Linked DNA regions of Homo sapiens: region 1 is linked to region 2. The links come from fine-mapping of genetic effects on gene expression. A gene starts in region 2. The other region holds a variant in brackets. All regions are shown on one strand. Distances are from middle to middle.

Region 1 (5,381 bases), 66 kb after region 2:
TATTTTAAATTTTTAAATAGAGATGGGATCTCACTATGTTGGTCAGGCTGGTCTCAAATTCCTGGTCTCAAGTGATCCTCCTGCCTCGGCCTCCCAAAGTGCTGGGATTACAAGCGTGAGCCACCGTATCCAGCCTGGTATTATGGTAGTTTTAAATGTTTGCCATCAGCTCTTCTGCATTCTTAGGCAGATGAACTAAAGGAGGACATACACTTACATCTGTTTCTAAACTTGTTTTCCCTTCTTATCCTCAAGTTTAGTAGATATATGGATGTCTCCTGCCACATATTTCCCACAGTATCTTGAAATGGTGATGCATCTTGCTGATTTTGTTTAAAAGGTTTTCTTTATTTTGAGACAGAGTCTTGCTCTGTTGCCCAGGTTGGAGTGCAGTGGCATGGTCTCGGCTCACTGCAACCTCCGCTTCCTAGGTTCAAGTAATTCTCCTGCCTCAGCCTCCCGAGTAGCTGGGATTACAGGTGCCTGCCACCACGCCTGGCTAATTTTTTGTGTTTATAGTAGAGATGGGGTTTCACCATGTTGGCCAGGCTGGTCTCGAACTCCTGACCTTGTGATCTGTCTGCCTCGGCCTCCCAAAGTGCTGGGATTAGAGGTGTGAGCCACCACACCTGGCCTAAAAGTATTTTTAACTAGAAAATATTTCAAAAATCACAAAAATTAAATAGTGCATTACAGACAGGTGGTTCAGTTTAGAATGTATGTTTCCCTTCTGTCTTTCACATGAGCAACATTTTATAATTTCTAATAGCATTTATTTTATTTTTAAAAATTTAAATTTTGCCTGTTACACAGCCCTCAGGAGGTCCTGAGAACATGTGCCTCTCAAATAGCATTTTAAAATCTATGTGTTGCTTGACTTGCAGCAAAGATTAATGCCATTCTGATTTTCTACTAATTTATTTCTATTAAAAATAGTGATATTATACATGACATCGCTAATATCAACTGGGTTTCCTATACTATAGTAATGTGAGTCAGGATTTTTCTTTATTTTGGACTATCTGTTTAGAAGTCTATGTTTGGGTCCAGTTATCTTTTTCTACTGATAAAAGTAATGATAGGTAGTGCTGTCCTGTGCAGCCCCTTCAGACCTGAAGGATGTATTTCCCCAGCAGGTGGGAATTGCCGCCGCTGAAGATAGCTGCCTTTCCTGAGGTCATGCCTCCTTCCTGGAATCTATGCAGGGGTGTATAGGCCCCTTTGCATCAACTTGGGCTAACGCTGTAGGTCAGCCCAGCTTCAGCTCTCCAGGGCATGGACAGAAGCCTTCATTCTGACTACATTGCATCCCAGCTTCTCTCTCTGCCCATTTAGCTTCATTTCCTGCCTCACTCCCCCATGAATGTTGAACTCAACGGCACTCTCCAGTAAACTTTCTGCACACAGATCTCCATCTCAGAGTTTATTTCTTGGGGAACCTGACCTATAACACTAGGTATATATATATTATGTGTGACTGAAATGTGGGTCAAGTGGCATGGAGACTGTGTTTATACTTATTTTCCTATTCACAGGGCATGCCAGGTTCATGCAATTTTAGTGGACAATTAAAAATTACTTTACAAAGTATCTCTTGCTTTAGTAGCATTTACTAGTTGATGTGCACCTGGTGGCAGTTTCAAAATGTTTTCTTCCATTTAGTAATTATCTGTTGCCAGATACTGCTCCACATGCAGGGACACAGCAGTGTGAACAGAGAGACAAAGTCCCTGTCCTCATGGAGCATAGTTTCTAGTGGGGGTAAACGAAAAATAGTTAGTAGATAAATAAATAAATAAATATGATTTCAACTAATAACAAATTCCAAGAAGGTAATAAAATAGGGTAACGGGATAGAGAGTGACTGGAGGGCTTTATCAGGGGTAGTCCTGGAGGACCTCCAGGAGGATGTGACATTTGAGCTGAGACAAAAATGATGAAGAGCAGATGGTTTACTATTAGGTTGCTGCAAAAGTAATCACGGTTTTTGCCATTAGTTTTGCAGCAACCTAATAGTTTGTAAGATGGCTTGTTTCAATTAGATAATTTTGGGTGCATTATAAATCTTAAGGGGGCCAATGGCTAGATACATGATACAGCCATATATTCAGGTAGAGGGATAATTGATCATATGTCTAGTCAGATCTGTAAATTTTTTTTCAGTATACATATTCTGTATACATTTTATAAAAACTACGTTTGACTTAGAAGACAGTTTTGGTGCTCTTGAAGACTTGACCCTGGCGGGGAGGATTTGAGGGGCTCTGTTGTTCAAAAGGAGAGCAGAGCGCCTCACTTGGAAGCTACTGTAGGAGGGTAGAGGGCTGTGTCTGTGTCCAAAGGGTGAGGTTTGTGCAGTCTGTGCCACATGTATAAAATAGGACTGAAGAGGTGTGAGTGCTGTGTTGCATTTGTTAATGCTGCCTGTGTTTTGCTTTTGCATAACAGGTTGAAATAGAAAA[G/A]AAGTGGATTAAAATCGATGGAGAAGACCCAGATAAAATTGGTGACTGCATAACTCAGTAGGAGTAGCAAGAGTTTATGATGACAGCCCACTTGTCAAATATGTAATTCACCGAAACCACACCAAGTCCTGCTACTGTAGAGTGGAAATGACTTCTGAATAGCGGTTTTAGGACAGGTCTGATGGCTGTGTTTAGAGAAGTTTAGACCTAAAACCGAACAATCTGTATTTTTTGCTTTTCATGTGTTTTTGTCCTAGGGGTTCGATCTAAAATGTTTCTATAATTCGTGTGATGTTTTGCTTCCTATTGAAACTCAAAGGCACTGTTACTCGTTGTGTGACCCCGCAGCCAGTATGATTTTTGATTACTCAGTGGCTGACTGTTTTGCTCTCTGGATTACTGAGGTGCCGTCTTCATTTCTTCCCATCTCTTCTTGCTGCTTAGTGTCTGTACTAGAGGGTAAGGGAATCAAAGGAGACATAAACCAAAATAGTTAATTTTCCCTCTTTCTTGCCTCTGAAATGTGGCTAGGTGTAGAATGATGTTGAAACCACAGGCTAAAATGTAGATCTGGAAGTATCTGTGCTTTTGAATTACTTATTTACCTGTCCTCTTACCGTTGGTAAATAATAATTGGCTATATTTGGTACCTGTCTCTCTCCTACTGTATTGTCATTTTCAAAATGTGTTTGTTTTCTGGCGCGTGCTGCAAAGAAGCTATTTCTGTTGTCCTACATATTTTAGTATAAATCACTAAGACATATTTCCTTTCACTTGGCAGGATTCCTTTCAAAATGGAATCTGAGTATTAGACACTAGTTAACATATTTGTGTATATTAAATATGAATTTTTAAAATTTATAAATACTATTTTCCAAAAGTACAGACTCTAAGGACATATTTTGATAAAGTATTATTTGTAATGAACACAAGCCTCTCTTGAGTAGAAGTCTAAATCACATTATGATTATTTTATACTAGTTCTGCTATCATGCTGTTTTATGCTAATTCTGCTTATTTTAGAGTATTTTTCATTAAAAGGTGAGCAAAGTGAAAGATACTTGGTATTTTACCCAGATTTCTAAGTGGCAACATTTTTATTCTTCAGAGTCAGGTAAATGACTATAATAGTTTGGTTTCTAATGAAAAGTCAATAGCATTAGCAGTTATAATTCTGTTTATAATTTCCTTTCAGCATTTACAGTGAAAAGTGAGAATTTTAAAATTTATGAAATCTATATTCCAGGTATTGTTTTTAGTCTGAAAAACAAACTCCCCCATGTGGTATTAATATACCTTCAATTTATGTTGAGTCTTAAACATAATTAGGAGATATTTTTCTCTATTTGCTAGATTTGTTTTGAGTCAAAACTGATTTAGTGTTCTTCCAAACAACATTTATGTGTTGGCCTACAGAGTTTATTTCATGTGTTTTTTTTAATATTTAATATTATATTACATTCATTGAAATCTGTTCAAAAACAGATTAAGACAAACATTTATGATGGTCTGTATCAATCAGCAGATTTTATTGCTTTTCATTATTTTACTGTAAAGGCAAAGAATGCAATAGGTGATGGTTGGTTGAAAGGAATTGTTATTGCTGTTTTTATTTTTTACTTTTTTTGAGACAGAGTCTCACTCTGTTGCCCAGCCTGGAGTGCAGTGTGTCATCTTGGCTCACTGCAACCTCCGCCTCCTGGGTTCAAGGGATTCTCCTGCCTCAGCCTCCAACTAGCTGGGATTACAGGCACAAGCCACCATGCCTGGCTAAAATTCTTTTGTATTTTTACTACAGACGGAGTTTCCCCATGTTGGCCGGGCTAGTCTCGAACTCCTGACCTCAGGTGATCCACCAGCCTCGGCCTCCCAAAGTTCTGGGATTAAATGCGTGAGCCACCATGCCCGGCCGCTATTGCTCTTTTTAACTTCATTTGATGCCTTGCTTATAATATCATATGCTTGAGGCTCACTGTTGATGTAGAGTAGGGCAAATCTGTGTGTGTATGTCATTAAAAAAATTCTACCATCTTTCTTTATCATCTGGTGTGGGCGCACTCTACAGTGACTTCAGTCTGCTCAGAACGAATGTGGAGGCCGGCCGAAACTGATGCTGCCCACAGTCCCAGTGAAGTTAGGTGGGTTAATTACTGCCATTCCTTTCTAAGTGTGTTTTATGGCATCCTGCCCACAAAGAACTCACAGTCTGATTAGGATGAACTTAATGACTATTTACACCTCAAAATATATTCAGCAAAGGGTTCACTTAGTTGCCCCTCATGCTTCACAGGTTGACTAGTATCTGTGGGTACCTCCCTGCCCAGGTTATTCACTCACAAGCCACCGGGCCTTCAGGACATCTCAAGATTCAGTCTTGACAATATAATAGCAAAAGCTGGACTAAAGCCCAAATGGATTGTCTGTGGCAATGCAGAAGCTGATAGCATTAACAGCAGGGTGTTACAGCATAATTGTTAATTCGCACATCTATTAGGATCCTTAAATATTCATTACTTAATGTTAAATTAACATTCTGTGTAGGGAGGGGAGGCTTATTCAATTCTTCTGACCTCAGAACTGGCAGAAGGTCAGATGTGACTACAGAACTCTAGGTGAAAAATCAGGTAGGGTTCAAATTAAGTAGAACTGCCCTTGCCGGAATAGTGATCTTCAAAAAACCCTTGCTTTTAGGGGAGGGAAGCGGGGAAGGAAAGGAATGAGGGAGGAAATATTCCTTTCTAGCATTCATTTTGCTTAGATCACTCCATTGTGAGTTTGACCATTTTGGAGTCAAATGAGCAGACTTCCAAGGAGTTGACCAGTTTGTGACTAGTCTGGTCACCTTTCCAGTTACAGGATCATATTAACTGTGTAAATGAATTCATGGGTAGATGATTTGTGCAGATCTGAATTTAAGAA
Region 2 (5,381 bases):
GATGGTGATTTTTAAATTTTTTCGATTTCATTTTAACTATTGTTGAAGCCATCCACTGGGAGATTTTATGGTTTTCAAAAAAACCATACTTATATATGTATAAAATATATATAATATATAAATATATAAAATACATACATAAAATATATATACATAAAAAATATAAATATTTGTTGAGATGGAGTCTCGCTCTGTTGCCCAAGCTGGAGTGCAGTGTTGCTATCTTGGCTCACTGCAACCTCCGCCTCCTGAGTTCAGGTGATTCTCCTGCCTCAGCCTCCTGAGTAGCTGGTATTACAGGCGCCCACCACCACGCCCTGCTAATTTTCATATTTTTAGTAGAGATGGGGTTTCACCATGTTGACCAGGCTGGTCTTGAACTCCTGACCTCAGGTGATCTGCCTGTCTCAGTCTCCCAAAGTGCTGGGATTACAGGCATGAGCCACAGTGCCCAGCCAAAAAGCTGTAGTTTGAATGAGTGTTATAATGTAAACAGAGATTTGCTGTTGCCAAGTTTTTAGAGAGGAATGTTCCTACGAAGCATTTAGTTCTCAGTGTGTCCCTCCCCTTGGATGTATATTAAATGATCCTGACAGCTTCAGCTGACATGAGTTTTGAGGAATTCCAAGCTAATCTATTAGGTCATATCTACAGATACTTTGGGGATCTCTTGTTAAACAGTTGGGAAGTTCTAAATATTTCCATGAAAAAACTGCCAGGAAAGAGAAATCTGCTAATAAAAAGGAGAATGACATAGTTTGAGGGTCTACTTATTGTAAAGCAAGAGAAAGAACAGTAACTGGAGTAAAATGAGCTCACAGCTGTGATGAACGGCTGTGGTGGCTTAGCTATTGAGGCCAGGCTAAGCTGTTTACCACCAGATTTTGATACAAAGGGACACTACCAGAAAGGATCCTTTGGAAATACATGGTGGAGTTGCAAGAAATAAATCTTCATTCATGAAACTGGCAACCTTTGGGGCAATGCTGAATCACACAGAGGGGGAAGGCCTGTCCTTTGCAAAAGACAAAATGGTTTTCAACCAACTGTATTAGTCTTTAGAAAGTTATGGGCATCCTTGCTTTGCAGAAGTGTCAGAGTTTCCAAAAGAGATTTCTTTCACCAGGTGGCTACCCACTAATAAAGGCCATACTGCTTCTTTCAAAGATGACAAAGTTTAAAAGGTGCATACAGAACTCTGTAAATGCAATGATGATTACTGTTTGTCAAATGTGTCGTTGCTTCCTGCATGAGTCCTGTCTCCAGTTAGCTGTGGCAGTTTCTGAGATGAGCTGGCCTCTGTGGAAGACCCACTGGTGAAAGGTGGGCTGGATACAGGACCAAAAAGGTTCAATTTGGGGGTTCAATTTGGGGACCCCAAAATGCCTGCGGTCAAAGCATGAGGACAACAAAGAGTTGCCCCTTCTCTTTTTCTTCCGTTCCTCCTCCTCCTGCTTCCTGTGTCCTTCTTGCTCCACTTCTCTCAGCTCCTTACCAGAAGCCTGACTTAGGGGTCCAGTACCTGTCTGTTTCCATGGAACAATCTCTGACAAGTTAACCAGCCAGTCAGTTGACTTCCTATTCCCTAGGCTCTCCTCTTCCCTAGGCAAGTTGCCCTTCCTCAACTCTTAACCATTACTGGAAGGTAGCTGGAGGAAATGAGAAGCTGAGGAGAAACCAGTGCCTTTTTCTGTGTTTAGGATATATTAAGCATAAGCACAATTAGTAGTTTTATCTGAGAATAAAAGTATCCTAAATAGATCCTGGCTGTGTGATTTCAGGCGCTCGAGGAGTGCCCTCCTGGAACGTCAGTTTCCTTCCTCAAAGCCCCGAGGGCAGGTTCTTAACACTGGCTGGAGGTCAAATAGGGTACTGACTATATTTCCATTTCACCAGCGAACTCCAAGGTCAAAAACAAGGCTACACCTGACAGAACATTTAAAAAAGAATTACACTGCTGTGCAAATACAAAGAAGTGTCCACTGATTTTCACCAACCCTGGGTGCACTGCCTATGAGTTAGCCCAGCTCCTCAAGGAAATTTACGATTAAAAAATAATTCATTGCCTTTCCACCTTCCAGCATAGTACTTCAAGTTGAGATGCTCACCGGGGCCTCCTAACCCCTCTCTTTGGATGCAACCCCTTTCTTCCTAGGTGGTCCATCCTACAGGACTGTTAAACCAATATTTCTTATTTGCCATTTTGAATCCTCAAGGATTCACTGAGTGCCTACTCTACACCTTCGCTTGAAAACTTTCAGAGATTTCCTGTATTCTGCTTCATGCCCAGCTCCACCTTCCCATCTAAACATTGCCCACTTACCCTAAGCCTTCCAGTCTTGCCAACCTCCAAAGCACCATGCCATGGGGCCTAAAATGCCCTCTTCTCTCCCCTCTGAGCCTGTTCAAACTCAGCTCAGTCTCTCGTCCTGGGTTTTGGTGTCTCTCCAGGGTAAAGGGGTGGGGAGGGTGCCTTCATTCTGACTGGCTCCCAGTGAGGCAGCCCCCCTTGAGGAAGAGGCTGAGATGCCAAGTGACTTGCCTGGAGTCATTTGCCAGCAGGCGATGGAATAGGGACTACGAGACACCCTGCAGCCTCTCCTGGGAGGACAACGCCCCTTCTCCCTCTCCATGCACTCTTGAGGCAGCAAAGAGGAGGCATCTGGACGCGTTTACCTCCTCCCCACCCCCACAGCTTGGCCCTCACTAAACTATCTTGTGTCCTTCCTCCTGCTATGATTGATTCGCCCAGGAAGGTGGGGCTTCATCTTTACCTTTCAAATATAATTCTTTAGTTCTCCTAATTACAAGGTGGGGGGTGGGGGGTGGGGGTGGGGTGAGGCGGGGGGTACAAAACAAAACAAAACTCCATGAAGCAACTTAGAAAGCACGACCGCAAAGGCCCTCCATCATCCCCACCCAGAGGTGAGGACAAGGTCTGGGGGTGCTGGGTGGCTTCAGACCTTCCACGGGTCCAAGCTATCTGCTTCAAGAGGGCATCGAAAGGTAACTCATAGACTTACCGCCCCCGCCCCCCGACTTTTGCAGGAGGGAGCGCTCTCCCCTCCTCTGGGAGGCTGGAGACTCGGGGACAGAAGATGCGCTGGAGGGAAGAGAACGGAGCGTCGGACACCAGAAAAACTTTGGGGGATTCGGGGTGAGAAAGAAGGCGTGAAGAGAGAAGGGAGGCTCAGCAGGGGAGGAGGGGCGGGGGCGGGGGCGGGAGCGGGAGGAGTCACTGCGCCGCGGCCGCCCCTCCCCGCCCTCCACTCGGCGGCCCCGGGTCTTCCTCCCCCTCCTCCTCCCCCTCCTCCTCCCCCTCCTCTTCCTCCGCCTCCTGGTGTGGCTGGCTGCGGCCAGAATCGGAGCCCCAACCGCGCTGCCGGTGAGTGACCAGCCCCAGGGGACAGAGACGGGAGGCCTGGGACCCCCCCTCTCCAGGGTGGGGCCTCCCGCCGTGTCTGGGAAAGTTTGCGGGCGCCCCGGGACGCGGGCATCTCCAGGGCCGCTCGGCGCCTCCCCATCTCCCCGCGCCCGCCCTGGCCGCCCCCAGGGGCGCCCTGGGGCCCGCAGAGGGATGGCCTCCCGGCAGGGACTCCTCGGCTCCCCTCTGTTCTGAGACTGCTGCTGGGACCGGGGTCCGACTCTAAAGAGAAAACTCAAACAGCAAAAAAAGGAATATCGACTCAGTTCCGAGGGCGGGGGCCGGGGCTCGTTCTCACCCGCGCGCGGCCCCTCGACCTCTCGGACCCGGGCCACCAGCTCTGCGCCCCTCACGCCTCCCTCGGGGTCTCTGTGTCTCTCTCCCGCTCCCGGACTCCCTCCTCCTTCTGACTGCTGTTATTTGGGCTGTTGTCCCTCCCCGCTCCCTGGTACCTCAGCTCGGACCTTAGCCTGTGCCTGCAGCCCGGAGTCCCCTCCTGCCCTGGAAGGCAAGGAGCCAGGCCACGGGGCCACAGCCGCGGGGGCCACCACACTGGCCCAAATATTTCCTGCAGGTATGACCATTCACTGGGTATTGGGGTTGGGTCCCTTGGACCCACAAACTGAACCTCGTGGGTACAGGGAAAAATTAAAATATATTCCTCCTTAGGATTGTACTGCTTCTGTTGGTTTGGCATCTTTTTATTTTTAACCCTTCTAACTGTGCTTTCTTCGAATAATAATGATACTTCATGTAATTAGCGTTTCTAATATCTAAAGACAGAAGAAGGAAGAAAATAAACGGAAGAGAGAGAATGCTTGCTAAAAATACTCATTTTTGACTTCAGTCCACACTCGACTGTTTTCCTGGGAGATAGAAGTTCAGTGTAGCTTGTTTTCAGACTAACCGCAAACACGATTACAGCCTCCTCCAGGCTAGAAGTTTTAATTTGCCTGACATGCAGCACACTGTTTGTTGGTATTCCCAGCCTGGCATTCCCGTCTGCATAGCTCTAGTCTCCCTCCCAACTCCCCCACCCCCACTTTCTTTCTCATAAAAGGGAGCTGTGAAAACAAGGCAATGGGAGAGGCTCAAACGAGCTGGACCACATAATAAAAACAGCCCTACTTATTTTAATCCTGAGGCTATGGACTCCCCTGGACTCTGATTGGGTGGAAGAATTGTTTAGTTCATTTGTGTGGTTTTTCTGTCAGTAGTTATTATGGTTGAATCAGTGTTTCCATGACAGTCTTGCTTCTGTGGGCACGATGGGGAGCCTGTTAATTCTCGGATGGGTCTGGACAGATCAAGTCTGGAGTCTGGAGAGATTTTTCAGGGCTTGACCTGGGCTGATATTGCAAACCTCTGCACACTCACTCAGAACCAGAGCAGCCGGGAGCAGCCTGAGCTGGGGTTTTCTTCCACATGATCTGGGAAGAAAAAGCTCTACCAAGGAGCGAACTGTGTGAGCATGGTTGCTGGGGGATGTTGAATGTTTTACGTTTTTAGGAAGAACACACTTCTCAAAACTTTAGCCATTCCTGTTTCCATACAAACAATAAATGTGGTTGTAACAAATGTAGTAGATCAGATTCTGAACAACCCCTTAAAAAACAGGTCCAAGTATTGAACCATTTGGAAATAAAGATTTTATTTTATTTGAATTCTACTGGAAATAAAAGAGTTTATGTTAAAAAGGATGTAATTCACTTCTCTCCACTGATGCAGTTTGACAGTTCCCCATTGGTATGAATCAGTTAGGTTTTATTGTGGTCTCAAAACATCATTAAGGCAGGGCACAACATCATTAAGGCAGGGCACGGGGTTCATGCCTATAATCCCAGCATTTTGGGAGGCCGGGGCGGGCAGATCACTTGAGGTCAGGAGTTCGAGACCAGCCTGGCCAACCTGATGAAACCCCGTCTCTATTAAAAATACAAAAGCTAGCTGGGCCAGG

What was found. PIP is the estimated chance that this variant, and not a neighbour inherited with it, causes the effect.
Region 1: its variant is fine-mapped to the expression of STON1 in esophagus muscle (GTEx, PIP above 0.99). The same link has a PIP of 0.9 or more in aorta, caudate, cerebellar hemisphere, cerebellum, esophagus mucosa and gastroesophageal junction.

Annotation. Positions count from the first base shown.
Region 1 is chr2:48,592,780-48,598,160 of GRCh38, forward strand. All of the region lies in intron 3 of STON1-GTF2A1L (STON1-GTF2A1L readthrough), which reads left to right. It overlaps STON1 (stonin 1), which reads left to right. Exons shown (of 4, transcript NM_006873.4): 4 at 2,449-5,381. The coding sequence ends at 2,523. Among named protein-coding and RNA genes, the nearest start is that of GTF2A1L, 22 kb to the right of the region's middle. The variant G/A (reference allele first, on the strand shown) is at 2,463.
Region 2 is chr2:48,526,832-48,532,212 of GRCh38, forward strand. It overlaps STON1 (stonin 1), which reads left to right and starts at 3,323. Exons shown (of 4, transcript NM_006873.4): 1 at 3,323-3,385. It overlaps STON1-GTF2A1L (STON1-GTF2A1L readthrough), which reads left to right and starts at 3,094. Exons shown (of 11, transcript NM_001198593.2): 1 at 3,094-3,157. RefSeq lists an enhancer at 3,316-3,863 and a silencer at 3,455-3,654.